4 linked regions of the Homo sapiens genome follow. The protein of the gene in region 3 purifies or fractionates together with the protein of the main gene of each other region. This does not show direct contact. Each region holds a gene or a part of one and is shown on either strand. Other genes may lie near its edges.

Region 1 (9,164 bases), on a different chromosome or scaffold from region 3:
ACTCCAGTGAAAAAAACCTCTAGGAGAACATGAGGATAACGTCATAAACAGTGCTGATGAAAGATGCCAGCGAGCCGTGAGAGCTGAGGTGGCCAGTCCTTGTCTGCAGGGAATGACCGAGGAAGAGAGGCCAGGAGGAGCAAAGCAAGCCCTGGGCTATTCCAGAGAAAGCGAGGGAAGGCCCACCAAGGCGAGTGACCAGAGGCAGAAGAGACAGACCCAAGCCACCCTCCATCCACCCATCAGACCATCAGAAGAGACAGAGAAGGAAAAAGAGCAAAGGCAGACATATTCTCGGCGGCGGTGGGCGGGGTGTTTCTCACACCTGCCTGCCCCACCCCACCCCACCACCAAGATTCCCAGCCACCTTGGATGCTTAAGGAAGGTGCATTTCCCCCGGTGAGGAAAGCTATATAGAAGCTGCTGAAGACCAGGCTCTCTTTAAAAAGACAAACAACAGGCTGGGCGCAGTAGTTCATGCCTGTAGTCCCAGCCTGGCCAACATGGTGAAACCCTGTCTCTACTAAAAATACAAAAAATTAGCTGGGTGTGGTGGCGGGCACCTGTAATCCCAGTTACTGGGGAGGCTCAGGCAGGAGAATTGCTTGAATCCGGGAGGCAGAAGTTGCAGTGAGCCAAGATCATGCCACTGCACTCTGGCCTGGACAACAGAGCGAGACTCTCTCGAAAAACAAAAACAAACAAGAAAAAGACAACAGTTCAGCCATTGGGGAAGACAGAAGGAATGGAAAGCAGGAGATAAGTCCTAATGTGGCAAAAATTGGAATGAATATAAATAATTAAAAGAATTAGGCACATTTAAAATATCTCTCTGGTCCTCTCCCCCGACCTCCTCTCAAACTTTAACCCTATTATTCCTCTAGAGATGGAGTCCAAATGAGGATTTCAGTGACCCCCACAACATCTTCATTACATCATCTGGTCTTAAGTAACTTCCAGATTTCCACATGATTTGGGGGGCTGTGATGGGAAGTTTCTGCACATTTTGAAACAATGGGAAGTCTTTTCACCCTAAAAGAAAATTCAGGAAAATTTCAGGAAAGGCAAGAATATGAAATGCAAGTCCATGTAATTCTGTTACAATATTTAGTAAAATCACAGTGTGCTCAGGCATTGCTAGCTCTGTGGCTTTGGGAGGGTTAGTTAACCTCTCTGTGCCTCAGTTTCAAATTAGATTAGAGAAAATAATTGGCAACCCACAGGGCTGGGGGCAAGCTGAAATGAGGTGTTATACAAAGCAGACAGCTTCTAGTAAGTGCTGCGTAACACATGTTGATTACAAAGTACATAAATGATCACCTTATAAGGTGTAATATGATAAGTGACCATTTGGGAAGAATATGATTGGAAAGTGACCTTCTTTCTCCCTATATTTACTATCTCAGGGCGTCAAAGACACCCTCCATACAACAAGTTACCAAACCCTCCTGGCTTTCAGACCTGTGCCTCTTCTGGGCCTCCCCTCCCAGAGCTGCAGGATGCTCAGCCTCTCTCTGCTTCCTGCCACGCCAGCCCACCTCATTCCTCTGTGGTCTAGGAAAACTCCAGCCTCCTGCCCTGTCCCACCTCACCCACTGGCCCACTCCTCTGGTCTCTGGCACTCCGTGAGAAGCGTGCACACTGGGACCAATACTCCCCACTTCCAGACCTAACGTGGGGGCTGTTCTTCTCTAGGAAGTATTTTAGGAAGCCCAGACTGGGCAGGGGTGGTGAGGTGGTCCCCCTGGCGTGCCCGCGCATCCCTGCCCTGCAAGTCTTATCCACTGCGTGGGAACCCCTCGCTGAGGCTTCCGTCTTGCCCTCTGGGCAGCAGGCTCCTCAAAGGCACTTGCAGGGTCGGCTCCCTCTTTGTATTCCTGCGGGCTGAATGCACGGGCTCCCTAAGAAACGCTGAAAGGGGATTCTGGAGTTGGGTGGGGAGTTGGAATAACTGACCCCACTTCTGTTGACCTTTGAGAGCCTGAAAGCGAGAAGGGAGAAGCGAGATGGGAAGATAAAAGGGAGGGACACAGCAGTTATGGAACCCCTAGGGTCACCCAGGACTAGTTATGGGACCCCTAGAGTCCCCCAGGGCTGGGGAGCTGAAGCCTAACTTCAGGCAGGGCAGGGTGCTGGTCCTGGGAAGGAAGTAAAGGTGGCCCCTCCTGTAAGTGAGAAGCACCAGGGACGGAAAGGGAAAGAAAGGCTTGAAATACCAGCAACTGTGGGGATGGATGCTAGGAGGCAAATTAATACTAGTGAGACCTGGTTGGTGGACTAGTACCCACTGCTGGACTGGGTGGTGGATTAGTACCCACTGCTGGACTGGGTGCTGGATTAGTACCCACCGCTGGACTGGGTGCTGATTAGTACCCACCGCTGGACTGGGTGCTGGATTAGTACCCACCGCTGGACTGGGTGCTGATTAGTACCCACCGCTGGACTGGGTGCTGGATTAGTACCCACCGCTGGACTGGGTGCTGATTAGTACCCACCGCTGGACTGGGTGCTGGATTAGTACCCACCGCTGGACTGGGTGCTGATTAGTACCCACCGCTGGACTGGGTGCTGACTAGTACCCACCGCTGGACTGGGTGCTGGATTAGTACCCACCGCTGGACTGGGTGCTGACTAGTACCCACCGCTGGACTGGGTGCTGGATTAGTACCCACCGCTGGACTGGGTGCTGATTAGTACCCACTGCTGGACTGGGTGCTGGATTAGTACCCACTGCTGGACTGCAGGGGCGCAGCACTCACTGTGAAGGTCAAGGAAACAGTAATGAAATCCCCAGGTGGGAGCAGGTTTGTGAGTGCCTCTCTCAATTTGTTCTTGAGATATGTTAATCTGTTCACTCCAGAGAGGTTTGGAAAAGGAGGCTCCCTTAGCTGGTGGGTGGGGAGGGGAACGAGGAGGGCCTGTCTGCACAGATCTGGGTGTGGAAGGGGTCCTATCAGGCCACCGAGCCTGGCCCATTTCCTCACTGCACCGGGCTGCCTTGGTGCCAGCATGACCCCCACGCAGACTTATCAGGGCAGAAAGCACTAAATATTTGAATACTTTACGGCCACGTGTCTACTTTTAAGTTGGTTTACTATTATTTTTCAATTCCCATGTAAAGTATTTCTTCATTTAAATTAATGAATTGCCACTTTGGTTAGGACCCTATTAGTCCTCAGAAATGGGTTTGCTTTGATCGGACCAACCGGATTCCTGAGTGTACCTGACAGAGCCGGGAATTCCCCCTCAAGCAGTGGTTCTCAGCTGTGGGCAAGTTTGTCCCTCTAGGGGATTTTTGGCTGTCACAAGTAGGAGTGGGGTGACTACTCCTGGCATGTAACAGTTAGAGGCCAGGAATGTGGCTGAGCATCCGATTCTGCACAGGTTGGCCTCTTCCACAATAAAGGATTAATGGGCCCAAAATCTCAACATCGAGATTGAGAAACACCTCGCCCTCAAGGAATGTCACCCTTGAGGCCCTGGCCAGGAGGCCAGCGATGAGGCAACCCTGATGACCTGACTTCTTGTGCCCATCTCTTCTCTAGGCCACAACACATATTCAGTGCTGGGTACTCTGCTCTATGCTACAAACGATGCGATCATACCTCCATGCCATGAATGAGCACCCAGTGCAGTTATGAAGAGAGGACTGTAATCATTGTCATGGCATGTAATTATGCATCTAGAAAGAGTGACTGTTTTATGAAGGGTGAATGGGGTGATGGGAGAGCGTCAGGAAAGCAGAGGCTGGAGGCAGATGCTAGAAATGGACTCACAGGCATAGAAATGGTTCCTATGCAGGCTACCCACACAAAAGGCCGAAGAATCTGCTCACCATCCGCCTTGCAACCTGCCCTTCCCCCAGCAGAAAAGAGACAAGAAAAGAAATGAGCCTGATGACTTACTCCTGGGACGCAGGACACAGTCTGAGATGATTGCATTGATTGTCTGCTGATGGCTGCAGTATCCTGGGAAGAAGATGTGCTTGCATAGACAGATAGTTCTTTAAAATTTCATCCGCCTCGGTTAACCTCTACCCACAGAAGACTGACAGCTCACGAGGAGCCCATGGAGATGGGCAAGAGACCAAATTTCACTCCAGGATCAATTCAAGTCTCCCATTCTCATTTCAGAGTTGATCTAAGATAAGCACTGGCAGGGTCTTTGCAGATAATAATCTGCCTTTAAACCCCGTGGTGGATTTGTGGAAAGTCCACTGAAGAACAGAAAGCCTCTGACTCCATCCACCCACCGCCTTGGGAACTCTGAGAGCAGCCACCACAGGTGTCCTTGAGAGCAGCTGCTCAGTCAAGTTCAATCCTGGGTTACACATTGGTTTTGAGAAGAGTTCATCTTTAATTTAATGTATGTACTGCATTGTCACTCAGATGGTTTTAATCACAAGGCCCTTTCCCTTCTCCCACCATCTCTGGCTAAACCATAATAAAAACAACACTCCCTGAAAACTATAGTAGCTTGTCTTATAAAGTACTGCTGTTAGTTTTTCTCCAAATTCTAAAATACTACCCTTTCTTGCAGTAATTTTGCTGTTCTTAACAACTGGGATGAAAGGCATGCAGAGGTCTACACGGTAGAGATTTGTTCATTATTTGAAAAATATTAGCTGGGGAACGGGCGCAGTGGCTCACATCTGTAATCCTAGCACTTTGGGAGGCCACACTGGGCAGATTGCTTGAAGTCAGGAGTTCGAGACCAGCCTGGCCAACATGGGGAAACCCTGTCTCTACTAAAAATACACACGCAAAAAAATTAGCCAGGTGTGGTGGCGCACCCCTATAGTCCCAGCTACTCAGGAGGCTGAGGCAGGAGAATCGCTTGAACCCAGGAGGCAGAGGTTGCAGTGAGCCAAGACTGCGCCATTGCACTCCAGCCTGGGCAACAAGAACAAAACTCTGTCTCAAAAAAAAAAAGAAAAGAAAAATATTAGCTGGGCATGTTAGTACACACCTGTAGTCCCAGCTACTTGGGAAGCTGAAGCGGGAGGATTGCTTGAGCCCAGGAATTCAAGGCCAGCTTGAGCAACAAAGTGAGACTGGCCTCTTAAAAGAAAGACCAGTCTCACTTTTAACATTTTAAACAAAACTAAAAAATAAATTTACCACATATCTGTTATGTGCCAGGCTCTGCACTGGGCATGGGAGACAGACTGTGGAATATGCCATGGCAAGGTGTGAAGGTACAGGGGAAAGCAGAGCCCAGATGATCTGGGTTAACGTCTCAGCTCTGCTCCTTCTTATGACCTAGCTGAGCTGCTTAATCTCCCTCATCTTTACTTTCTCTCTCTGTAAAATGGAGCACGATGAGAGTTTTCACACACTAGCTTTGTTATGAGGCTAAAATGAGTTAATAAATGTGAAGTCCATGTACTGGCACATAGGAGGCCCTCAGTGAAGGCAGGCTGTCATCATTCTTGCATATCCTGTAAGTCAGCCAGTCACCTCAGTGTCTCTAATGACCTCTGCAGGTTACCTGGCATAAACTAGACTGAGGCATCATCTCCTACAAGAATTTCTTTTCTCTTCTATAAAAAAACAAAACGGGATACATGTGCAGAATGTGCAGGTTTGTTACATAGGTATGCGTGTGCCATGATGGTTTGCTGCACCTACTGACCCATCCTCTAAGTTCCCTCCCCTCACCCCACTCTCCAACAGGCCCTGGTGTGTGTTGTTCCCCTCTCCTTACAGGAATTTTAGTGTCTGGCTTCAAACTAACATAAAATTCAAAATGCACCTCTCGTCTTGGAGGATCCCACACAGAAATGACCATGAAGTAGTTATGATGTTTAACCTAAACAGAGCAGAGATGCCCGTGCCAACCAGAGTTATTAGGAACAGCTTCATGCTGATATCATCTGAGTTTAAAATAACCAAGAAAAAGAAGAACTTGCTAAATGTTTTCTCCCAAGGTCAGCCAAGCAGAGGAGTGTGGTTTTCCAGAGGAACTTTGTCATGTTGTCCATATAATTTCCAGGCTGACGGTGGAACTTAAGTGGGGGAAAATAATTCTACTAAGAAGAGTTTCATGACATCAGAAAACACAGAGAAAGTGCTGCAACGAGGTCTCAACACTGTTCGTGTTGGGTCTCTAGAGCCACCACTAGTTTCTGGATGCACTGCTGTTACTATTAAGAAAGCTGTAGGGGGTTGAAACCCACTTGTTTTTATCAGAACAAGACAGAGACTTGCAGTGTATTATGGGAAATCAGCTCCAAAGGACATGAGGATATTCAGTGAACTAATGGGTATGTAATTGGACGCAGGTAGTTTTTCTTTTTTAAAATGCTATACTTTGAGTCGATGTGGGGGGAGCTGTTGTCACCTGGAAATCTATGAGTAATTCACTATGAATGGGAACCTTGAGAGATTCTCTCTCTCAGATTGTTCTTTCAGAAAGAGAATACACAAGCCTTCTCTTCCTCTGTGTCTCCTGCGTTAGAAATTCCACTCTTCCCATTTAGTTAATTAACAAATGTTTACCATCCTTATGCTCAACCAGCATGGAAGGTACAAAAAATATATAAAATGGACAACAGTCAACAGCTAACCACTTGATCCCTCCCTGCCCAGCACAGTTTATGCTGTGTGTGAACAATTTATAAAATTGTTCAATGAAAGAAGTATCCTGTTTCATTGGCCAATAAATGCTTCTATTAGAAGTGATACCGCCAGGGCAGGCGCGGTGGCTCACGCCTGCAGTCCCAGCTGCTGGGGGAGGGGGGCTGAGGCAGGAGGATGCTTGAGCTTAGGAGTTAGAGGTTGCAGTGAGCCATGATGGCGCCACTGCCCTCCAGCCTGGGTGACAGAGCGAGACCCTGCCCACCCCCCAAAAAAAGTCATACCCCCATGGTTTAGAGGCTGTCTCCACATTGTCTTCCTGATAGTTCTTAAGCTTCTTTAAGGAAAAACCAGTTTCCCGTTTATTGCTATATCTATAATATACAGTGCCTGAGACATGATACTCAACACTATTTGTTGAATAAATGAAGGGATTGGGGGTGGATAGAGGACAGATGGATGTATCATGTATGTGTGAATGGATGAAGGAATGGTGACTGAAAGGTAGGACTTAGGATCAAAGGAAGAAGTAGAGCAAATTAGATCGGAGAAACAAGATAACGACAAACAATGAAACCAATGGGAAATCTTTGTGGAGCAAGAGTGTGCCAAGGAAAAGAAGACAGGTAGATGGATTGTTCCATGACAATGTTGAAACAAATTATACTCCTTTTAAGATATTTCCTCTTATTCAGTCATTAGAAGAAAATGGGTATCTGCCAGTCATGGGGTTTCCCTTGTAAACCCATTTGAAAACTATAACTATTTAAACTGTATCTTGTTTTGCTCACAGTTGCATCTGTGGGACCTGACACCTATTAAACACGTAATAAACAGCTGTTGAAGAAAGAGTTCATGCTTTAAGCTTCCTCTTTCCTACAGCCTGGCAGCCACTGCAGACCTTCCCAAGCCCATGCATGAAGCCAGGTTTCAGAGTTCCAGCGCTTCCTTTCCAAACTGATTCTCACACAAAGAATAATGAATTTGAGTTGCCCAAGCTCTAGGAAATGTTACATGATTATTATGATTATATTTCAAAATAGGAGTGATGAAAGGCGTTTCACCAAAGATTTAGAGGTCAAACACCATTCAGAAATGTGAATGTGGGCCAGGCACGGTGGCTCACGCCTGTAATCCCAGCATTCTGGGAGGCCAAGGCAGGTGCATCACCTGAGGTCAGGAGTTCGAGACCAGCCTGGCCAATACAGTGAAATTCTATCTCTACTAAAAATACAAAAAAATAAAAAATAAATTAGCTGGGCGTGGTGCCACATGCTTGTGATCCCAGCTACTCGGGAGGCTGAGGCAGGAGAATCGCTTGAATCCAGGAGGGGGAGGTTGTGGTGAGCCGAGATCACGCCATTGCACTCCAGCCTGGGCGACAGAGCAAGACTTCATCTCAAAAAAAAAATAAATGTGAATGCGGCTTTGTCCCATAACCATCAGACCTCCTTTCCAGAATAAAGGAGACTGCACAAAACGTGTGACATTTACCAAACCCTCATTTGAGCATCCAATAATTTAAAACAATGGCAATGGCAGGAATTATGAAGATGACATTCCGGGTAAGTTCCTGGTTGCGTCTTCCCCAGTTTCATACCTGTTTAAAGTCTAGTGTAAGTCTGGCCTTTCGTTGTTAAGCTGAAGCTAAAAAAGTATTGGATTAGGAAGGATTCTGCCTTCTGTTCAGTCTTCTAACAGTCCTTCTTTTTCTGATTAAGAAAAACTTCTGTCCCCAATTTACATCTACTTATGCTTTCAACCAGCACAGAGTATACCTGCTCTACTTCTATACTAAAGACTGACTTCTCCCTTCTTGGAGTTAAGAACCCTGAACCATGATCCATTTCTTACCATCCACCTTTGCTATCTAAGACACCCTCTCCTTCTTCCCTTGAACCGTCTGCCTCCTCTCCTATAAAGCTTCAGCAGCAGGATGAAGACTCTCTAGTATTCTTCTCATACTAATTGCGTCTCCTTGACTGGCTGTTGCCTCCCCCTTCCTTCCAGCTGGGTGCTCTGCTCTTCTTTTCGCCACCCGTTTGGTGGATTTTAAGCTTGAGAGCACAGACTACAACTGCTGCCTTCTTCACCAACTTCACAGCAGAGCCTTGCAGACAGTAAAATCCCAATAAAATGACGGCTGACTCACCCTCTGGGTGTCACCTCTGTCAGCCTCTTCCATGGGACCCTACGTTTACTTTATACTCACAGCTCCACTTACCTTCCCTAGGCCAAAGCTGCTAACTGCTTTAACCTCTACTCAGCATCTGAATATCAGACAGTGTTTTGTTTGTTTATTGGGTTTGGGTTTTTTGTTGTTTTTGTTTTGGCTGTGCTTCTGAGGAAGTCTTGCTCTTTTTCCTTTCAGTTCTATTCCATTAGGCTTTTTGCTGTGAAATTTTGAATCTGGAAACTCAAGAGAACCGACATCGCAGACTTTGATTTACATGCTGTCAATCTGCTTTGGAAGGTCATGTGGCAAATCTGCCCTTGAGGACCATTTTCAGACAGGAAAAACAGTAATTTCAGCCTGGCTGCTTTTCAGAATTCTTTGCAAACATCAGATGCTCACAATCCAACCGT
Region 2 (7,464 bases), on a different chromosome or scaffold from region 3:
TTATAATTATGAATCTTTATATTTTTATGATAGTTGATAGTTTACAAAGCTAGTTTCACTTGATCTTTACAAAAAACCCTATGGGGTGATATTTTTATTACCCACATTTTATTGATAAGGAATTAAATCTCACAAAGGTTTGAAGACTTTCCCAAAAGTGTCACAGGACAACTAAAACTAGTTAACCCCAAGGCCCTGTATCAGAATGATCACCTGCCTTTCCCCCACCAACCCACACTCACCAGGCACAGTGTCCAAGAGGCTCTGCCTCTTTCTCAATGCCATCTTTGGGTTGCCTCATCCTACCTGCAATGCTTACCTTCAAAGCAGATGCTGACAATGTGTTTGGATTTTGGAGGCTTGATTATGAGATAAAACTGAATAGTGCTGGACACATGTTGAGTTTCAGTTTTCTGACCCTTCTCTTTTGAGACTCCAGGTCCAACCCTCATCTGTACCTTCAGATTCATGGACACCACTGATGAGGTTCTGGCTTGCTTCATTTTCATTCATGACTTTGACTCCCAGACCACACTTTGATCCTGGTTCTTCCAGCGTTGATCTAGAAACATCCTAACCTCTAAGGCACCATCAAACCAATTTTGTCCAAGAAGTGTAAATATCATTGCCCACAATAGATCTAGCAACAATTAACATTTGCTGAGCACTTACCATGTGCCAAGCATGGTAAGTGATGAATGCTTTATGTTCATTAACTCATTTAATGCTCATAGCAACCCTTTGAGATAGGTACTCATAATTGTATAGATGAGAAAGCCGAGGTGAGTAACTTGCTGAAGATCACACAATAAGTGGGGAAGCCAGGATTTGTGCCTACATCATTTTGACTCTAGAGCGTGGGCTCTTAATCATTAGGAAGTACTGGCCTCCAGAAGTCATCTTACATCCACCTCCTCACAATGGATAATTGAGGATGACAAGTGGTTATAAGCACTTTCTTTGTTGAAATTTAAGCTTAAAAATTGATTTGGAGTTAGACATCAATCCATGACCTGGGGGAAAATACCTACAAAGAGAGACAATGGGAAGACTGAGAACCCATTAATGAAAAGCAAGCAGTCCACACTATATGGCTTGTAGTGTAACATTTGGACAAACACGTATTCTGTGGTGAGCTTAGGCAAGATGCTGCCCACACTGGGAAGGCAGCCAAGAATTACTGCCACCTCCACCCAAGAGGATCACCCTACTAAAGGCCACAGAGAGGACCAGCCCCCGTCAGAGACTGCTTGTAATTTCTCTCACTGTGGGAGCTTCCTAATGAATAAACAAACTAATAAAAGTATTTCTATAATTTTCTATGTGATTCAGATTCAGTGAAGCAGTAAGTCTTTGGTGCTTAATTATGCAAGATATCAAAAACACTTATTGTCCCAAATACTTTGCAGAGCAATAACATTAAAAAATAGTTCTAAGTCCTGTTTCACTGATCCAGACCTCTCTGTTTTTTCATGTATGATGCAAACTTTTAAAGAAATGAACAAAAGCCAGTCACTGGAAGCTGCTTGAATTAATGCGGATCAAGAAGAAAATGGCAACAATTCACAGTCCCCAAGCCTCATTTCAACTATTAGGATTCTCCCCTTTTAGATATTTTACAGAACTGCTAACGAGTTGTCAGTAATTACTTTATTGAGCATCTGCAAGGTGCACATCATTGTACATAGCTTGAAAATGTCAAATTGAGTTTTGTCACACCCTCTGTAAAGGCTTCCCTAATTTCCATGGTTTCGTGGTTTTTCTTCCTCTGTTCCAAGGAACATGTTATTAGTACCTTTACTGCAGCACTTACTTGTCCTTCATGTGTTACGATTGTACCATGTGTTCTCTCCACTAGGTTTTGAACTCCTCAAAGATGAAATCCATGCATTGTTCATCTCTGCAACCTTGATGTCCAAATACGTGTTTGACAGATGAACGAATGACTGAATAAATGAAGGATGGTTCACTTTGGTTCCTCCTCCCAACTACCTAGTCTGCATTTAGATCGAAGTGCTGATGCTGAGTGAGAAGACAACATTCAAAAGGCACAATGGAAAAGAGAAGTGTCCAAAGGCATAGCTGATCCACAGACTAGAAAATCAGCTCCATAATGAGGAAGAGGCTAATCCCAAGGCCTCAGAACATAACAGAGCCACAGCAAGATCTTTAAGCCAGAGTTGGGGTTCATAAACCCCAACCTCTACCTCAAAGCCCAGCGTAGCTCATTAGGAACAGGCCAGCAGTCCAGCCACCTGCTGTGGCTTCACGTCCAATGCAGATGGTTCTAGAGACCCACAGGCACAGCCACACTAGTAGCTCAGGGCAGTGGGTCTCAGCCACCTATCCTTACTGATACTTTTTGCTTTATTGTCCCTTTTTAGGTTTCAAAACTGGCCACCCAAGAATAAATAGACACTAAACAATTGGATGTGAAAAAGAAAGACATTCCCCAATGGTTCTCAAGAAGCCGTTTGGATGCTGTGCTCCTTACATGGTGCTAAGGGGCTCAAGCTGCCGTGGATGCCCTTTTCGGACCTTTCAGTATGCAAATATGTGCTAGGAGGGAATTAAGTTTCCATGGGATGCAGTAAGCATAATGTTGTACATGGATGGCTAATTGTTTTCATCACACATGCCAAATCCAACTGCTTTGTCAGGGCCTGGAGTCTGTTTGATGAATGAGGAAATCTTGCCATGGTCCAGAGAGGCAACTGAATAATAGCACGAACTTCCCATGTCTGACATCTCAGGTGTGATGGGACATGTGCAAACAACGTTGGCTCCTAATCTGCTCTCAGCTAGCCATGAAACTAAGGGCTAGCCTGTTGCCTCCCAGGGCCTTGGGTTCCTTATCAAATAATAGTTTGGCTGGACTGTCCCTCTGGTCACTTCTAAAATTCCTTTTCTTTATCCAGCAGGATTCTTGACCAATCAGTACCAAGTCAAACCCTCACCCTTCCATTTACCTTCACACTGCTGAAATAAAGGGACATCCAAACTTTATGCTCCCTAAGACAAGAGTTGGTAAAATACTGCTTTAAGTTTCTTAGCTAAGCCTGGTGCACATCTCCCTAGCATGGACCCATGCGGTGCTCATACTCCCTAACCTTGCATCACAAATTGATCAGGATGGCAGCTTGCTGGCTGCTGTTCTACTCTGGGTGTGCCTCCGCTATTTTTCTGCAAAATGTAACTCTTGCTACGCTCATGTTTCTCATCCATCGACCCCATGCAAATGGTTGACATATTGTTCTCTCCTTGTTGGGACCCCGAATTTTTGCATATAACTTTCTGATTGATCCTGGGCGGTAGCCCCAAGATCAGTATTTCATACTTGGCTGTTTCTACCTCTCAGCAATTCTTTAAAACATTCAGAAAAATCCAGGTGATTCCATCCCAATTGTGGGAAGCAAAGTTTGGTCCCTCTTGTTACCATTTTTTAGTGCAAGATTTAAAATGACAAGTGCTTGATCAAAAAAATTTTGAGAATGAGCTCTCACATTTAATTTGTATTAATGGGGGAGTTATGTTTGTAGCCTCAAACACACTGTAAAAATAATTTCCTAAGATATAATTATTCTTAAATATTTTATATATTTTTTTCAGAGATGGCCACAATAACTTTTATCTTTATTTTGTGGCTCTTTTCTATATAGTTGTATCAAAACAACCATTTAGGGACATAAGTCAGAGTATTTTTACTGTGCTGGGTACTTATTTCATGCATTAGAAAAATCTACTATGTTGCAGAATATGAATTTTCATGTTAGCTTAACATATAGATCTTTCAGTTCAACCTTGTCAGGCAGGGATACACGTCAAGTTAATCCAAGCTGGACAAAAGATGTCCTTGGATCTGCAGCACCTACTAAGAGCAGGGCTGTCCACCTTCTCTTCTCTTCTTTCCACCGGAGAGGACTGTATTATACCATTCAAGGGGCCCAAAAAAAAAAGAAAAGAAAACTTTGCCCTTCAATTCAAACTCTGTTATGCCACATTTGGCATAAAATGCTTACCATTACCTAAAAATGATTTTTTAAAAAATGCTTATCATTACCTAAAAGAAAAATGTAGCAAAATTCAACTTTGGAGGAAAATGAAAACTGTACATATCCTTGAGAACCACGGAAAGCTAAGAGATATAGAAAATTGTACATTCCCACAAAGTTATTTCAACAAAGAGGCATTATCTGCATTCCACCAAGGTCAGTCGAGTTGAGGAGAAAGAGAAGCAAATGCCAAGAAATTGGCTGCAGATTTTTTTTTTAATCTGTTTTGCCTTAAATCACAAAGAGCAATGGGAAGAACAAGCTCCCTTTCTCCTTTTCTCAGACACCTTTGGTCTAAAGTTGTTCTTTTTCTAGTTCTTCCCTCCCCTGTAATTTTTAATTATCAGAAATAAATACCAGTGCATTTCAGGTGGTCGTCTGTGTTAGAGTGCATAACTGAAGTTATTAGTGGCTTGGGAGTTTGCACATATAACTGGAGGTAAACAGCAGATTACTACACCTAATCTCACCCTGAGCATTTCTCCTCTGTCAAGTCTAAATTCTGCCATCTTCTTTTGCAAAAACAAGCAGACATCCCCACCAAAGGCCAAAATATAATGATAACTGACAGTGAACAGAAACCCATTGTAAAGACAAACTATTCCAGCTTTCAAATTCACTGTGACTGGATACTATTAGTTTTTTGAGTTTATAACTCCCCAGAATTGTCAAAAGTAACCTTGTAGCCAATCCGCTTGCAGACACTAAAAACCACCTGAAATAGGCCACCCAGGGTACCAAAAGCAGTGTCAAAGAGCAGTGAGACAGTGCCACCAAGGCCCAGTGCAATGTCCTTGCAAACAATTGGAATAGCGCCCATGGTGTACACAGGGAAAGTGGCCACATCCACAAGGACACGGACAGGGATGCTCAGAACTCGGCAAATGGCCTTCAGCAGACAACAAAGGATCCGGAGGAGAGCCCTGATGACTTTGGCCACGACCTTGAGCACCTTCCAGGGAATGCTCACCAACTCTTCCCCAATGGCCATGAAGTATGAGATGGTGGCTGAGCCCAGGCGGTAAAGGCAACTTTCTATGCCATTAATCACCTGCTTGGTAACACACCACAGGAAATAGACAATGTTCTTCAGGATTGCTACCACAAGGTAATAAATTAATTGAAAAAGCTTGATGAATGGGGTAGCAATGAAGCCCATGAGTTTTCCCAAAAAGCTACTACTTCCCTCAGATGCCTCTGGAGGCAACAGAGTAGACCTCTTGCTCCTGGTGCTAGAAAGGGGACTAGAACTCTTTTGAGATTGTACCATTCGTTCTTCATCCTGGATTTGGTTAACCACTTCCAGGATTTTTTTCATTTTCTCTGTGTCTTGCTCAGTTTCACCACAGTTGTTCTGAAACAGCTGAGGGTTAAATGGAAGCAGTTTCTGAAGATCTTTTACCATCACATCTTCTATGATGTCACTGTCCCGGGTGTGCTTGACAAAGCCCATGGCCCAGCCTCCTCCAGGGACAGCACAACAGGCTGCCAGCCAAACAAACTCAGGGACTGCCACTTTGTCTTTAACTCTGTAGTCTGAGGGCACTGTGCCTGTGAGGATATATAGGTCTTCCCCACTGCCACACTGTGGGGTCAAAGCCCGGTCCATTAGGCTGTGGAGATTCACATACCACCGTTCCTGGAAGGACTGAGTCATTGGGGCTGAATTTGTGAGAGTAAATGTGGCCACCTGGACATCACTGCTAAGGGAGAATGGGTAAAGCTGTCCTCTTTGGTAATCAGAATCAAGGTAATCTGTATTCAAGGCTTGCTTGCTTCCCAGGCTGTTCACAGAGGTGATGGCCTCTGCCTCATTAATCGCCTCCTCAAGGTTGCTGTTGGGGTCATCGATCTGCAAGAAGAAAACAAGTGGTGAGATGCATCCCTGCTTACAGCACAGAGGCAGCACTAGAATCATCCTGCCCAGACTCTGGAGAAGTCCCCACTGGTCTATTACTTCAAACGCTTGAGTTTGGAAGGACTTGGTTCTCTGGCACATGGACACTTCATTCTGATATACCAAAATCCTGGTGTTTCAAAGCATCTTTCAGATAGGCTGTTTCCTAGTCTATTACCTGTGTTTATCCCACCCTGCTCTACAGTAACACCCCTTCACTCACACTCACACCCACCATCGTGATGTTCTTTTTAAAATCTGTTGTAGTCTGGGGCCAGGTGCGGTGGCTCACGCCTATAATCCTAGCACTTTGGGAGGCTGAGGCGGGTGGATCATCTGAGGTCAGGAGTTCAAGACCAGCCTGGCCAACATGCTGAAATCCTATCTCTACTAAAAATACAAAAATTAGCTAGATGTGGTGATGGGTGCCTGTAATCCCAGCTACATGGGAGGCTGAGGCAGGAGAATCACTTGAACCGGGGAGGCAGAGGTTGCAGTGAGCTGAGATTGCACCATTTTACTCCAGCCGGGGCAACAGAGCAAGACTCTGTCTCAAAAAAAAAAAAATCTGTTGTAGTTTCATGAACTTCATAATTCTTTTTTGGAATACTTTTGCATGAGCTTCAAAGTAATTCTAAAAAAGAAAACAAGGGGAGAGTAGATCTCAACAGGCCCATAAAGCCAGAACTGCAACTCAGTTAATCAGCCACCAATGTTGGTTGCAATTTAATGCACATGTTCCTAATGAATGTTTACACATTTTCGGATTTATGAAAAATAACCAACTCTAATCAGCGCATTTAAATTACATGGGGGAAAATGTACAGTCTGGTGTCAGTTATTAGGTATTTATCAGGCAAAACTAAAATTCAAATTAGACCAGTTGCTGTTTGAACTTAATCTCCCCAATATTTGCTATGACTAACAATTCATTTTGTGTCTTGGTCAATCTAGACATGTGCTATATATCAATTGCCATCAATATATACATCCTTTCTTGGTTCTGCTTTCTTTATAAAAAAATTCAATATTATTTATGATTATTTTCATCTTATCTGAAAGGACAAAAGGAAAGTGCTTAGGATTAATTTAGGATTATGTCATTATCCCCCAAACTAACTTGTAAATTCTTGACACCAGAAACCATGTATATTCCCCCAGAACCCAGCCCAAGGCCTGACACATACTAGAATCTCAAGGCATTCTTGTTGATCTTTATGCCCTGGGGCGGCAGTATTTATAATAGCAGCAAGTGGAACCATCCCACATTTTAAAAAACAGGGAAAGGTTTCGTAAATAATGTTATGTTATATCTATCAAAGAAATAACTCATTAAAAACCATTATGGCCAGGCATGGTGGTTCATGCCTGTAATCCCAGCACTTTGAGAGGCCGAGGCAGGTGGATCACCTAAACTCAGGCATTTGAGACCAGCCTGGGCAACATGGCGAAACCCCATTTCTATAAAAAAAAAATTCAAAAAATTAGCTGGGCATGGTGGTACACACCTGTGGT
Region 3 (5,782 bases):
TCTGACCAGTCTCCCAGGGCACTCCTGAGGGAGGGAGGCCTTCATCAAAGACAGTGAAAGCATGGTAGAACAGATATTGCTCAATGCAATGTCATCACCCCTGCTGCTGACTGTCCATGTGAACTCCAACCACCCTCCAGAAGGCTAAATCGCCCCGTTCCTACTCTATGATTCACCGTCAGCAGAGCACACGCCAGACAAGGAAAGCACAAAGCCTGACTTGGGGTGGGGTACCTTGATTAAAGAAGTGTCTCTATTACAGAGACTCACGACCCCACTATGTACCATGTTTGACAGTAGCTTTCACATCCAATATTAAAATTCAGGATGGGTGAGAAATAGGTCTCTGTCACAGATGGAATGTCTCCCCCAAATTCCCATATGGAAACCCTGTCCCCTAATGTGCAGGTATGAGGAGGTGGGGTAGTATCGTGTCATCATAAGAGTCCCGAGACAGCTTGCTTCCTCTCCCTACCATGTGAGTACGCCGAATCTGCTGGCACCTTAATCTTGGACTTCCAGCCTCTAGAACTGTGAGAAGCAAATGTTTGCTTTTTAAGCCACCCAGTCCAAGGTATTTTGTTGGAGTGGCCTGAGCTAAGATCGCCTCTTTCCTGAAAAGTGGGAGAAGAGGAATTGAGTTGAAAGAGAGTAAAGGAAGAAGCGCAGGCATAAACATCAGGTCACTTTGAGAAAAGAATGTGCTGTGGGTTGACCTACGTCCCCCAAAAACATATGTTGAAGTCCTAACCCCAGCACCTCAGTGTGACTATTTGGAAACAGGATCATGAAGATGTAATTAGTTAAGATGAAGTCATGCTGGGGTAGGTAATCCAATGTGTCCTTATGACAGAGACACAAAGGGAGAAAAATGTCAGTGACAATAGAGGCAGAGCCCTGGGTGACGCAGCCGGAAGCCAAGGACTGCGAGGTGAGGACTACAAGGTGGGGACCGCCAGGTGAGGACCACATCGAGGACCACCAGGCGAGGACTATGAGGTGAGGACTGTGAAGTGAGGACCACCAGGTGAGGACTGTCAGGTGAGGACCGCCAGGTGAGGACTGTCAGGTGAGGACCGCCAGGTGAGGACTGCTGGCCACCAGTGGCAGCTGGAAGAGGTGAGGAAGGATTCCACCCAGAGTGTCGGAGGGCGAGTGGCCCAGCTGAAACCTTCATTTACAACGTCTGGCCTCTAAATTATGAGAACACATTTCTGTCGTTCTAAGCCACCCAGTTGTGGTGTACTTGGTTACAGCAGCCTAGGGAAACTCCCACAATCTAGGTAGAAGCTGAGGATCCGGACGCCATCTGTGTCTGCACACCTCTCAGAAAGGCTACGCTGCAAAGGAGAATCTGCTTCCAGAACTTCCACTTGCCTTCATCTAGACACCTCCAGAGGAAGGGAGATGCCTGTTCCAACCAGAGCCCTAATCATCAACTCAAACCCAGGAGGTGAGCAACTGACACACGTGCACCCAATACAGTCCCTGTGTTACAGGAAAGGGGTCCCAATCCAGACCCCAGGAGAGGGTTCTTGGACCTCGCACATGAAAGAATTCAGGGCAAGTCCGCAGTGCAAAGTGAAAACAACTTTATTAAGAAAGTCAAGGAATAGGCCCGGCACAGTGGCTCATGCCTGTAATTCCAGCACTTTGCGAGCCTGAGGCGGGTGGATTGCCTGAGGTCAGGAGTTCAAGACCAGCCTGGCTAACATGGTGAAATCCCGTCTCTACTAAAAATACAAAAAAATTAGCTAGGCATGGTGGCATACGCCTGTAGTCCCAGCTACTCAGGAGGCTGGGGCAGGAGAATCACTTGAACCTGGGAGTCGGAGGTTGCAGTGAGCCAAGATCATACCACTGCACTCCAGCCTGGGCGACAGAGTGAGACTCTGTCTCAAAAACAAAAAAAAAAAAAAAAGAAAGTTTACTTTGCCAAGGTTGAGGACATGCCCGTGACAAAGCATCAGGAGGTCCTAATGACATGTACCCAAGGTGGTCAGGGCACAGCTTGGTTTTATGCATTTTAGGGAGACATGAGACATTGATCAATATATGTAAGAAGTACATTGGTTCTGTTTGGAAAGGCGGGACACCTTGAAGCAAAGGCAGGAAGACTCAAAGCAGGAGGGAGCTTCCAGGTCACAGAGAGGTGAGACACAAAGGGTTGCATTCTTCTGAGTTTCTGATTAGCCTTTCCAAAGGAAGCAATCAGATATGCCTCTCTCTCAGTGAGCAGAGGCTTGACTGAGTAGAATGGGAGGCAGGTTGGCCCTAAGCAGTTTCCAGCTTGAGTTTTCCTTAGTGATTCTGGGGGCCCAAGATGTTTTCCTTTCACAAGCAGCAGATGAAAAGAAAGGGCAGCCTCTGAAGTCTCTCACCTCTCTGAAGGGAAAGCAATAGAGAAAAAAGTGTCAAATATCTTTCCTTGAGAGTCTGGCTGCACAAACTGTAAATGTTAAAATTAGGAAGTAAACTCTCCTTTACTCCACATGTTGTTCCCAAAACACATGAAGAAACATTGCCAGCCACAGCAGCAAATTGCTGAGTCACTGATAAAAATGTCAAAGTTCAACTGTTATGTTTCTTAACGATATACAGATGCTATTACTCAACATCTTAAAAATGATTTACAAGTTAACCCTTTAATGTCATCTAAGGTACGACTGACCCACTTCGATTCACTTCATAGTTGATTTAGGAGCAATGTTTTAAAAACTACTAAAATGTGAAGCTTTATAGCTAAAAATCACAACCAAAAATATTGAAATATTTACATAGGTCCCTTAACAAGTGTTGTAATTTATTTTGAAATAGAAACTACTTGTCAACTTTCAGTGACTAAAGAAGGCAAAGGCGGTGCATCCTATTTGATTATAAAGGTTGTACTCTGTAAGAACAACACAATTCCTTTCCACTGCACGCGGTCACTTCTGAAGAACCTCGTGGTTTGTCAGCTCATGCCAGTGCAAATGCAGTCACAGCCAATGACACATGTACTGGGTTCTAACAAATTCAGCTTTCAAGTTTCCACATTTAAAAGAATAACACATAAGGCAGAGAATAATAAATGGGAAGTAAGATGACTGAATCAGCCCCTTAGAGCCCCCAGGAGGAGACAGAGCCACACCAGAACTCTTCAGAGCTTGACACTAGCCGCTAAATTTCTTCAAAGATCAGATTCCAATGTCCCACAATCTCCTTACAAATTAGAAAACCAGCCTTTCCTTAGAAGAGTTTACAAACAATTCTACTCTCTGAATGAGGAATTCTTAAAACTTTAGAACCTATGAAGCTGTGAGTGCCTTTGCAATGATACGTGTAAGCTGAGAGAATGGACAGTTGCGATGCCCTCTCATGGTTCATGTGTTTTTAAGTTGCTGATGTTTTTCAATCAGTGAAGATAAGAAGTCTCTCTTATAGGCCCTGTAGGCTACTTTCTTTTTTTTTTGAGACAGAGTTTCACTCTTGTTGCCCAGCTGGAGTTCAACGGCGCGATCTCAGCTCACTACAACCTCTGCCTCCTGGGTTCAAGCAATTCTCCTGCCTCAGCCTCCCAAGTAGCCGGGATTACAGGCATGCGCCACTACGCCCTGCTAATTTTGTATTTTTAGTAGAGACAGGGTTTCACCATGTTGGTCAGGCTGGTCTTGAACTCCTGACCTCAAGTGATCCACCCACCTCAGCCTCCCAAAGTGCTGGGCTTACAGGTGTGAGCCACGATGCCCAGCCGCTACTTTCTTTTTAAGATCTATTTCAAGTAGGACAATTATTAGAAATCCTTAAACTATAATTTCTGGCCTTTCTTAATTTCCTTGAAAAAAAGAAACTATATCGGAAGCATACAATACATGGTTACTCAATGAGATGTGACGATGTGAAAGGAGACACTCAAACCTATTTCCCGCACCTCCAGTCATATGGCCTCTGTGGGTCTGGATGAGTAACACATTGAAGGAATCCTCTAAATAACCAGATTCTAAACATTAAAGACAATTATACACCAAACAGGCAAACACGGTGCATACTTTAAAAGCCAAATATATTTTTAAAAGATCATGCTTATAATAAGTAAATTACACATTAAGGAAACATCAAAATAAAGTAGATGAATAAAAAGGCACACTCGAAAAATTTGAGCGCAGAAAGGACAGTTCTTTTTGTTTTGTTTCTAATGTCGGAAGAAAAAGAAAGAGATATATTAAAATCATTGTTTTCAAGTGAAGGTTTCTGTCAGTTGAAGTAGTTAGCAATGGCTTCTTTTCTCCCGTGTCCAAAGCAGGCTCTTCCTGCGCTGACTTCTGAGGAGGTGTTCAGTCCTCTGCCATGTATAGGCGATACATCAAGGCGACGGCCACTGCAGAGATGGCAGGGATCACCCAGTTGGTCCACCAACTAGAAAGACACAAAAAGCAATGATGCTGACATGATGTGCACTGTGGTGGACTCAAAATCTTTGCTCCTTCTAACAGAAAATTACCAGGGCATGTTTTTCTTAACTCTGTAATGAATTTTGCTGAAAAGGCAACGTGGATTTGCTAAAAGTGACATGAGTGTAACACATGCCCTGCTATACTAGGAATCACTCTGCCCTGCTGGCTTTATGAGAAAACTCATGCCCCACTTGGCTGGGCTCAGTGGCTCACGCCTGTAATCCCAGCACTTTGGGAGGCCAAGGCAGACGGATCACTTGAGGTCAGAAGTTTGAGACCAGCCTGGCCAACATAGTAAAAACCTTCTACCAAAAAATACAAAAAGTAGCTGGGCGTGGTGGCAGTAGCTAATTGTAATCCCAGCTACTTGGGAGGCTGGGGCAGGAGAATCGCTTGAACCTGGGAGGCAGAGGTTGCAGTGAGCCGAGATCACGCCACTGCACTCCAGCCTGTGTGATAGAGCGAGACTGTCTCAAAAACAAACTAACAAAAATAAACAAACCAAAAAATGAATGCCCCACCAGCTGTAAAGTTGAAGAGTATGGGCCCTGTGATGATTAACACTGCCATTAACACCACAGCTTTAAGCTTAGGTTTGGAAAATCTAATCTTTACTACCTGTGCTGAAGTGGATTTAAAGGGTTAAGAAACAGAATGGCCAGACTACTTGGTGTGTGGTCCACAGGTCTAAATTCACCAAAAAAAAAAAAAAAAAAGCCTAAATTTACAGTCCTGATGCATAGAATTTCGATCTATAAATTACAGATTACAAATCAAATCAGGGACAAAGGAGGGATGAGCTATAATTTCTATTTGAATCTTTTTTTTTTTTTTGATACAGAGTCTTGCTCTGTTGCTCAGGCTGGAGTGCAGTGGCACGATCTTGGCTCACTGCAAGCTCCGCCTCCTGGGTTCACACCATTCTCCTGCCTCAGCCTCCCGAGTAGCTGGAACTACAGGCGCCCGCCACCATGCCCGGCTAATTTTTTTGTATTTTTAGTAGAGACAGGGTTTCACTGTGTTAGCCAGGATGGTCTCGATCTCCTGACCTCGTGATCCACCTGCCTCGGCCTCCCAAAGTGCTGGGATTACAGGCGTGAGCCACCGCGCCTGGCCTCTATTTGAATCTTTAAATTAGATTTGAATCTTTAGATTTTGATCTTTGACTTAATTTCTTAGAAAAATGGAAATTAATGTGTAGGCTTTAGAAATAGACTTGGTATACATATGTGTTTCATAGGGACTACAAGTATAATCCTTTCATAAGGATTACAAGTGAAACTTTCATAAGAATTACAAGTGTAACTTTTGTCTTAGTGGGGTTTGGTGGGGTTTTTCAATTTCACTTT
Region 4 (9,164 bases), on a different chromosome or scaffold from region 3:
ATCATCACCTCCCAGTTTTGACCTAAGGGTGGTCCGAGTTGCAGAATAGCAGTGAGCAACAAAACAAAGAAATCCAATCTTTCCAGCCAAATAACAGAAAAAGAAGTCCCTGCAAACTAGAGAGTATCTGAGAAATCATGACTTGTTTCTGTTTTGTTTTCTCTCCCAGTTCTACCACTAGCCCCGACCACAGAACTACCTGAAATGCTGGTAGTCGCGGTGGTACTGTAAGCATCTACAATCTGGAGGAAAAGAAATGTGTCTCAAAGGCTAAAATACCAAAGCAAAGAGGCCCCTATAACCCAAAAATGGAAAAGAAAAACTCTATTATTTTTCCCTCTCTTTTCTCTCACCACTTTGTCATAAAGTGCTCCAGACATATGATTCTGCAAAACAGCACAAAGCAGCAAAAACTCTAAGAAAGAAACCTGTCTTTCTAACACAGGGGTAGAAGGAAAATGGCCCAAGGAAGCCAGAGAGTGTGGGGAAATCTCAGAGAGGAGAGAGCTGAAGAAGATAATCCCCTAACTCTGCGTGTAAACTAGCAAACTGTGTATGCATGTGGAACAGACTGAAGAAGCACAGCAAAGGTTTTGAGAATTGAAAATACTTTGGAACCAGAAAGCAAGACAGATCTTGCAGTTTGGACACAACCAGGTGGAATGTCTGCTTTAAAAAAAAAAAAAAAAAAAAAGTCAACATTCTTCAGAGGATTTTAACAAGAAATAGTCTCAAAACATAAGATTCGAAAACTCTGGGAACAAGCCAATTACTCAACAAACATAAAAGGGTGATCTATTCTCAAGTGAAAAAATAATCCACAGACCAATCCCAAGATGTCCCAGTTGCTCCATAAATAATCCATAAAATAAACGTGAAAACACCTGTAATGAATAAAAATATCAAAACTATCCACAGAGAAACAAAAAAACTTTAAAAAACAATGTAAATTTAAAAACAGAAAAATACAATATCTAAAATTAAAAATTCATCAGACGATCTCAATAGCAGAATGGAGATTAACAAAGTAAAAAGTCAGTGAGCTTGAACACAGGGAAAACAATGAAAAGAGCCTAAGGAATTGTGAGAACGGTATGGAAATGTCTACCATTTTTGTCTACTGAGTCCCAGAAAAGAAAGAGATTAGTGTAGAAACAAAACAATTACCAAGAAATAATGGGTGAAAACTCCCAAATTTGGTTAAAGATATAAATTTACAGATTCAAGAATCTCAGTGATCCAAAAAAAAAAGATAAACTCAAAGAAAACCACACACAGATAATCAAACTGCTGAAAACAATGAAATAAAAGTACTGAAAGCAAAGAAAAATAACATATTACAAATAGGAGAACAATGATTCAAATCCCTTCAGATTTGTTATCAGAAACAATGGAGACAAGAAGACACTGGAAAAGCATTTTTAAAGTGCTCAAGGAAATATACGTATGGCTGTTGAAAGCAAAATTATTAGACTGGTAGGTTTTTCAATGTATGTATATGTAATACATGTCAATATCAGGAATGAGAGGATATTAATACACATCCTGCAGACATTAAAAGGATAATAAGAGAATATTACTCTATAACAGAGAAACAACTCTATCCCCATACTTAGGTGAAATTAACCAATTACTTGAAAGATGAAAACACCAAAGTACACTCAAGAAGAAATAGATAACCTAAATGGTCTTTTGCACTCAGATTTAAAATTTTTTTTTGAGATGGAGTCTCACTCTGCTGCCTAGGCTGGAGTGCAGTGGTGTAATCTTGGCTCACTGCAACCTCCGCCTCCTGGGTTCAAGCCATTCTCCTGCCCAGATTCTCAGCTGGGATTACAGGCATGAACCACCATGCCCGGCTAATTTTTGTATTTTAGTAGACACCGGGTGTCACCATGTTGGCCAGGCTGGTCTTGAACTCCTGACCTCAAGTAATCCACCCACCTTGGCCTCCCAAAGTGCTGGGATTACAGGTGTGAGCCACCATGCCCAGGCCAGACTTAAATTTTTCTATAATGATATGCAACTATCTTTTCCTTTTGTGATTTGGCTTTTCCTACCTTGACAATCACAAAAATATGCTCCATTGTTTTCTTCTTACAGGCTTATTTCTCACTTTAAATATCTGATTCACTAAAAATAATTTTTATGTACAACTAAGGAACCTAATTTTATTTTATTGCACTCAAAGATGCAACTGTCCCAACACTATTTACTGCATAGTTACCATTTCCCCCAGTGGTATGTGAAGCGAATTCTGTCATATACTGAAATCCTTTATATACATAGGTTTGTTTCTGGTACCCTGTTCTAGTGATTCACTTCTATAACAAGCCAATATCACATTGGTTTAATCACTGTAACTCTGTAGTCTATCTTAATACATAATATTCTTTTTAAAAATTTTCTTAGCTACCTGTGTACCTCTACTTGTCCAGATACATTTCAGAATGTTTATAAAAATAACTGAAAATTTGAAATTCCCACCCAAGTTACAGACTAATTTGGAGATAAGTTACATCTTTTCAAGGTTGACTCCTATCAATCAACATGGCATCTCTCCCCATTCATTCAGGTGTTCATTTCCTTCAATAACATTTTATAATTTTATTAAAATTTTACATAAATTTTTGTTTCTTCCTTGTTACCTATTATTTTTGTTGGTATTATGAATGGCAATTTTATTTTCTACTGTTGGTGCTAACCTTCCTAAAAGTCGTTAAATCTTTTTTTTTTTTTTTTTTTTGAGATGGAGTCTCACTCTGTTGCCCAGGTTGGAGTGCAGTGGCATGATCTCAGTTCATTGCAACCTCCACCTCCTGGGTTCAAGTGACTTTTCTGTCTCAGCCTCCTGAGCAGCTGGAATTTCAAGTGTTCACCACCCTGCCCAGCTAATTTTTTTTTTTTTTTTTTTTTTTTTTTTTAGACAGAGTCTCACTGTCACGCAGGCTGGAGTGCAATGGTGCAGTCTTGGCTCACTGCAACCTCTGCCTCCCAGGTTCAAGCGATTCTCTCGCCTCAGCCTCCTGAGTAGCTGGGACTACAGGCATGTGCTGCCACACCCAGTTAATTTTTGTATTTTTAGTAGAGACGGGGTTTCACTATATTAGCCAGGCTGGTCTGGAACTCCTGATCTCGTGACCTGCCCATCTTGGCCTCCCAAAGTGGTGGGATTACAGGCTTGAGCCACCCCGCCCAGCCATTTTTGTATTTTTAATAGAGACGGGGTTTTGCCATGTTGGCCAGGCTGGTCTCAAACTCCTGACTTCAAGTGATCTGCCCGCCTCACCCTCCCAAATTGCTGGGATTACAGGCATGAGCCACCATGCCTGGCAAAAAGTCTTTAAATCTAATAGCTTATCCATTCACTTTCTTAAATACTTTACCAATCATGAGAATTTTTTCACTTTTTTTCTAATCACACTTCATTTCTTTTTCCTGTCATCTTGCATTGGCTGGATTCTTTAGTACAACGTCAAAGAGCTATGGTGATAGCTATCATGCCCTAACTGCTCCTGTTTCAATATATCTTGATGGTAACGCATTTTAAATTTCAGCATAAAACATAAGACTTTGATAGATATTTGATTAAGCAAGTTTCCTTCTAAGTTTTCCAAGAACTTTACATGTGCATATACATGTAAAATTTTAAATTTTATCCAGTGCTTGTTCTTTATCTACTGATACTTTTTCACTCTTCACCACTTTATGTGGTAAACCACACTGAAAGATTTTTCTAATGCTTAATCATCCTTGCCATGGAAGGCACTGTGATTACATTCCCTACATAAATGCATCACAGCCCTATTGTGTAACAGTTTGGCTATACCTATACTTACCCTGTACCAAGGTTCATTTGGTTCAGAAATGAATCACGAGTTTCCTAAGCCAATTAGGATAATCCCATCCCCTCTGTCAGAGTGACTTATTTACAGGTTTGAATGTAACCCAGGCCTACAGCTATCAGTTCATGTCATTTCCCTCACTACTAGAAAATGGTTTCACTGGTCCAATCAGAGTAAAACTCAGAACTTTTATTTAATCCGTAAAACAGGCCAGGGATGGGTGCAATGGCTTGCACTGGTAAACCCGACACTTTGGGAGGCTGAGGTGGGCAGATCACCTGAAGCCAGGAATTCAAGACCGGCCTGGTCAACATGGCAAAACCCCATCACTACAAAAAAAAAAAAAAAATTAGCTAGGCATGGTGGTACACACCCAGCTACTCAGAAGGCTGAACAGCATCACTGCACTTCAGCCTGGATGACAGAATGAGATCGTGTCACCAAAGAAATTTTAAAAATCAGTAAAAGAATGAAGACTTTCTCTTTGCCACCAGGCACAAACAGGTCACCTTCCCTTACCTACCAGTTTCTGCTGGTAGCTACTTTGTAACCAGCTAAGGAGAAAGGTAACATAGACAAGATCAGAGCTGAGTAGTTACCAAAAAAACACCATCAGAGCCTAGATCAAATTATACCTGTGGTGTTTAAGCCAGCTGAAGTTGGAGCTGGTTTTGGTTTTATTTATTTTTGCACCCAAAAGCATCTTGACTTATAAGCTAGTATTCAAAGTACAAATCCTAATTATTCATAGATGTATTTATTATTTAATACACTGTTGGAATTGATATGTTTTACTTAGAGTTTTTACTAAATATAACTTTAAATAAGTGTAGTGAAACTGAGCAAAAAGGCACATCACATGAAAGACTATCTCCATTACACTATTCTGTGACACCCAAGTATTTACTCATTTGTTCAGTAAGTATCTGTTGAGGACCTACCATGCATGAAGTACTAGGGGTAAAATGAGGACCCAGACATAGTCTTTGTTCCCAAAGAACATTAAGACCTGATTTTTATAGGCAGAGATATAGGCAGAAACATAACACCGAAGTGGAAACTCTCAACAAGAACTGAAAGCTTGAGAAGAGCTAACAATTTTTTCTGATTTTCATCTTAAAATTTTCACTATTACTTTATCCCATTTCTTTAATAGTTTCTAAGAATTCAATACAGTACCTGTGTTAGACGGATCCAAAATTAACTGAAGAGATGGCTTATTTGTTTGGCTGGCTGGAATATCTCCAAACGAATGGTCTGAAATCTCACTGGAACTTTGACAATCAACAAGAAGACTGCTTGGCCTTTTCTCGGAATCTCTCAAAATCTCTTCCATGGCTTTTTCCAATTGTTCATCACCATTAGAAACTATCTACAGACACAGCAAGACAATTCTGTTTCAATTCTACCATAGTTCTGAAGCTAAATTTTATGAAAGTATTTCATTTCTAGAAGAAATTAAAACAATCTAAATATTTAAATATAGTTACTAAAATACTAAGAAGTTGTTTCACATATATAATACATTAAAATCCTGGTTATAAAACTAAATTAGAGGAAGATTATTAGTTTCACAAAAGGATTCTTTATAAAACACTTAAGACAGTTTCCAACTACATTTTATATAAGATCCTATTTACAGAGATGTATTTATCTTTTTTTCCCCTTTCTTTTTAAAGACAGAGTCTCACTCTGTCACCCAGGCTGGAATGCAGCGGTGCAATCTCAGCTTATTGCAAACTTCGCCTCCTGGGTTCAAGCGATTCTCATGCCTCAGCCTCTCAAGTAGATGGGACTACAGGCGTGCACGACCACACCCAGCTAATTTTTGTATTTTTTGTAGAGACGGGATTTCCCCACATTGGCCAGGCTGGTCTTGAGCTCCTTACCTCAAGCAATCTGCCCACCTTGGCCTCCCAAAGTGCTGGGAGTACAGGCTATGAGCCACCACGCCTGGCCCTTCTTTTTCTTTTTCTTTTTTAGGAACACACCCTAAAAATCAGATAACCTTAAATTTACATGTCTAAAGGAAAAAATAGGTAAATTTAAATCGGGTCTATTATGAATATCATTTAAAAGGTTATATTTCTTGTTAGCACAGCATAACCATATTTCTGATTTCTTTACAAATTGTTGGCTAGCTCCCAAGATGAATATTGCTAATTTCCTTACACTTAAGTTGACTCATAGTTTTCTCAAAGGCAGGTGAAACACAAAGCCTAAGCAAATAAGTGATGTCTTAAACACAATAATGCTAAAATACAGGTATCTAAAAATAAAGCCACTGATTATTTAAATAAAATTATAAAACAATATATTCTCAACATAAACATTTAGTAATCTCATTTTCAGAATATATTTTATTAGACTGATATATTAATACACTTTTGATGCCATAGTTAATACTAAATAAAAGTCATAAGTAATATATAGCACTTTTAACTACTTTTCCTATTCCTGTTTCTAGAAGACAGTTATACCATTTTCAAGCCTATATAACTGAGTTTACTTGCTTCCTTTTCTTTGACTTAGAAAGTGCAACACAGAAGTGAAAAAGGGACCATATCTAAATAAAAACTCAAATGCTAAAAATATAAGATATGCTTTAAAAACATTTAGACAAGTCGACTGTTAAATCACACAACGGAACGTTACCAGCTGATTTAAAACATAAAAATCATAAAGAAAAAAGTCTCTCAAGTGAAAGCAAAACATTTAATTAACTTCTAAAACCCAGCAGTAAGAGAAACAAAAACATCCAGATAAAGTAATGTAAAATTTAACCATTATGTCTAATTCACCAAAAAATCCTTTCTCTTCTTTTTCTTCTTTTATTCTTCCCCCTAAAATTCCAAATCAAAAGGTAAACAACCAAAAGCAAGAACTTTTTAAAATACACAAACCAAATAATTAGGGTCTGGATAAATCAAACATTGATTTTATTTTGAAAGTCAGCACTTGAGAAAAACCTTTGCATTTTACACATCTCCTAAGTTTCAAATAGTTTTTAATTAAAAATTATACCATATGTAGAAAAGAAAAAAATACCTTCAGTTGAGGTTTTTCTTCATGTTTTGTAGAATTATCATCTGCATACTGAGGAACCAAAACAAATTCTTCACTGTTCATTGTAGCCACAGAATCAGATGATCCACTAACCTTCTGTAATGAAGCTCTGACCTCCATTTCAGTTCTGCAAACTTCTCTTCCCACAACCACCTGGAAAAACAAAAGGGATTAAAAAAAAAAACCTACTGATTAAAAACATGAACTAATTAAAAACATGAACTAATAAAGCTTTAAAAATGGTTTATGTGAAGAAGAATCCTGCTGGCTAGATAATTATCTCAAAGTTAGGGAGGCTACCTTCTTGGACTGAGCCACTTAATGGAAATGTACTCTCTCTTCATCCTAAGTTTCCAGACTAATAGAGCCATATTGTTACCTAAAAATTTACACAAACCAGTCCATATCTCAACCAGATTTATCACTGTTTACCTGACACACTCACTCTCATTTCTCTTAGAAATACTGTTTTCTTTTTAATAGAGGAAATAATTAAATGATACTAGAAATACCTACAAATGCACACACAGACACAAAACCATATTCACTGACACTGCTATATTAATTAAATCTAAATGCTTCAAAAAAAAACTTATCTCCTCAAGACCGAATATTGTACCTGCAAATATTTTTTCTGAGTAACTAAAGTTGACTAATACAGAATTCAACATCCTAAGACATATAGCTTCTCTTTCCTGACACATTATCACTTATTAACACCAAAAAGAAAAAGAAAAAAGCTTCTATATTGCCTTCACGTAGCAAATAATGTTTCAGTAATCAAACACAGTGTAATTCTGTTTTCTGGATAGATCTCTACAGCATAGAAACAACACTCACTATCATATCCAGAAGTTCATGTACTCACACAACTAAGTTTAACTGCAGACATACACTATATAACAGACACAACTCAGCCCTGAGGTTACCTAAGTGAATAAGGAAAACAAGTAGCCTGCACTTCTGGGGCTTACATACTAGTAAGAAAACAAATAAAAAGGGAGCAAATGGTGATTCCAAGTCACTCTAAAGGCTATGCAAACAATAAACACGTTAATGTGACAAACAGTAGCTATGGGAAGTATACGGACAAATTAAGGTGGTAGGAAAAAGCTCTCTGAGAGGAAAATATCTGAGCCTAAACCTGAAAGACAAAAAAGAACCCTACTATTACACAATCTGCTCAGTGACCAAATGAGTAATGTGATAGAGGGGCAGGACAAGCAGGCTAGGGCTAAAGAACACGGGACCTTGTAAGCCATAGTAAGTCTACTGATCCATGCCTAAAATCCCCCCAGAAATGTTATTTTTCTTTCTAATTAGGTTACCTTTTCATTATAGCCTATAAGTATAGCTGCAATATTCCATTTTGCCATTAGGTGACACTAACACCATTACTCTTGGCAATAAAAAGAATGAGTCTAGCTTCAAGTTACATGTGTATCTTTTAAAAAGTAATTACTTTCCAACTTTATAAAAAATCAAAAATTTCAAGAATATCAAAATAAAGAATAACCATACTCCTGGACCAGTGTAATTAGCTAGCCATCATTTATTTCTGTTATGCATGTTAACACCCTTCCTTTTTAAAACCCAAGCGACATTCATCTGTCCTCTGAAGGTTTTTTTCTCACTTTGTATATTTTGTTTCTAAAAATGCAGAATGTGTTACAAGCCAGGTCTTTACTCTTCCAGACTGCACGATGAATCCTTAACTGCCAACACACCACATATTCCAGATGTCTTTCTGTGGTCAATCCTTCAAGTCCTTCTCAGGTTGCTGCTCCTCTACCTGATTTCTAAATGTTAGAAATTCCCTGAGTTCAGATCCTGACCTTTTCCCTTGTCACACACTCTAAGTAATGTCTGTCATTGTCATGGACGAAAATACCATCTGCAGGCTAACAGTCTTCCAAATTTCTATCCCAACTCAAATACCTTCTCTAAATTCCTGCCCTGAAATTCACCTCTCTACTTGATATTTCCATGTGGAAGTCTTATCGTATCTTAAATGAAACATGACCAAAATGGAATTCCTAATGTCTCCTCCAAACTTGTTTCCAGTCCCGATTTGCCATTTCAGTAAATAACACCACTATCTTCTACAAAGTTACTTGAACACGAAACCTGGATATCATCCTTGATTCACCTCCACTTCTTTACTCCTCACATCAGCAAGTCATGTCAGACCCACTTCCAAAATAAGACTCACATCTATCCATTTTTCTGTCTACTACTACTACCACTCTAGTC

Evidence for each region.
Region 1: the proteins of CYB5A (region 3) and AGPAT4 purify together in Homo sapiens (affinity purification with mass spectrometry; 2 studies listed by BioGRID and IntAct, with this or other methods). This does not show direct contact.
Region 2: the proteins of CYB5A (region 3) and ENDOD1 purify together in Homo sapiens (co-immunoprecipitation; 3 studies listed by BioGRID and IntAct, with this or other methods). This does not show direct contact.
Region 4: the proteins of CYB5A (region 3) and RABGAP1L purify together in Homo sapiens (affinity purification with mass spectrometry; 2 studies listed by BioGRID and IntAct, with this or other methods). This does not show direct contact.

What each region holds. Positions count from the first base shown.
Region 1 is NC_000006.12:161,262,803-161,271,966, forward strand, and holds part of AGPAT4 (1-acyl-sn-glycerol-3-phosphate acyltransferase delta), read right to left. Parts: intron 1-9,164. UniProt on the Homo sapiens protein: Converts 1-acyl-sn-glycerol-3-phosphate (lysophosphatidic acid or LPA) into 1,2-diacyl-sn-glycerol-3-phosphate (phosphatidic acid or PA) by incorporating an acyl moiety at the sn-2 position of the glycerol backbone.
Region 2 is NC_000011.10:95,126,817-95,134,280, reverse strand, and holds the end of ENDOD1 (endonuclease domain-containing 1 protein precursor), read right to left. Parts: intron 5,905-7,464; coding exon 4,702-5,904; 3' UTR 1,636-4,701; downstream 1-1,635. UniProt on the Homo sapiens protein: May act as a DNase and a RNase. Plays a role in the modulation of innate immune signaling through the cGAS-STING pathway by interacting with RNF26.
Region 3 is NC_000018.10:74,249,271-74,255,052, forward strand, and holds the end of CYB5A (cytochrome b5), read right to left. Parts: intron 4,396-5,782; coding exon 4,314-4,395; 3' UTR 1,576-4,313; downstream 1-1,575.
Region 4 is NC_000001.11:174,217,025-174,226,188, reverse strand, and holds part of RABGAP1L (rab GTPase-activating protein 1-like), read right to left. Parts: intron 7,065-9,164; 5' UTR 7,032-7,064; coding exon 6,894-7,031; intron 5,218-6,893; coding exon 5,025-5,217; intron 1-5,024. UniProt on the Homo sapiens protein: GTP-hydrolysis activating protein (GAP) for small GTPase RAB22A, converting active RAB22A-GTP to the inactive form RAB22A-GDP. Plays a role in endocytosis and intracellular protein transport.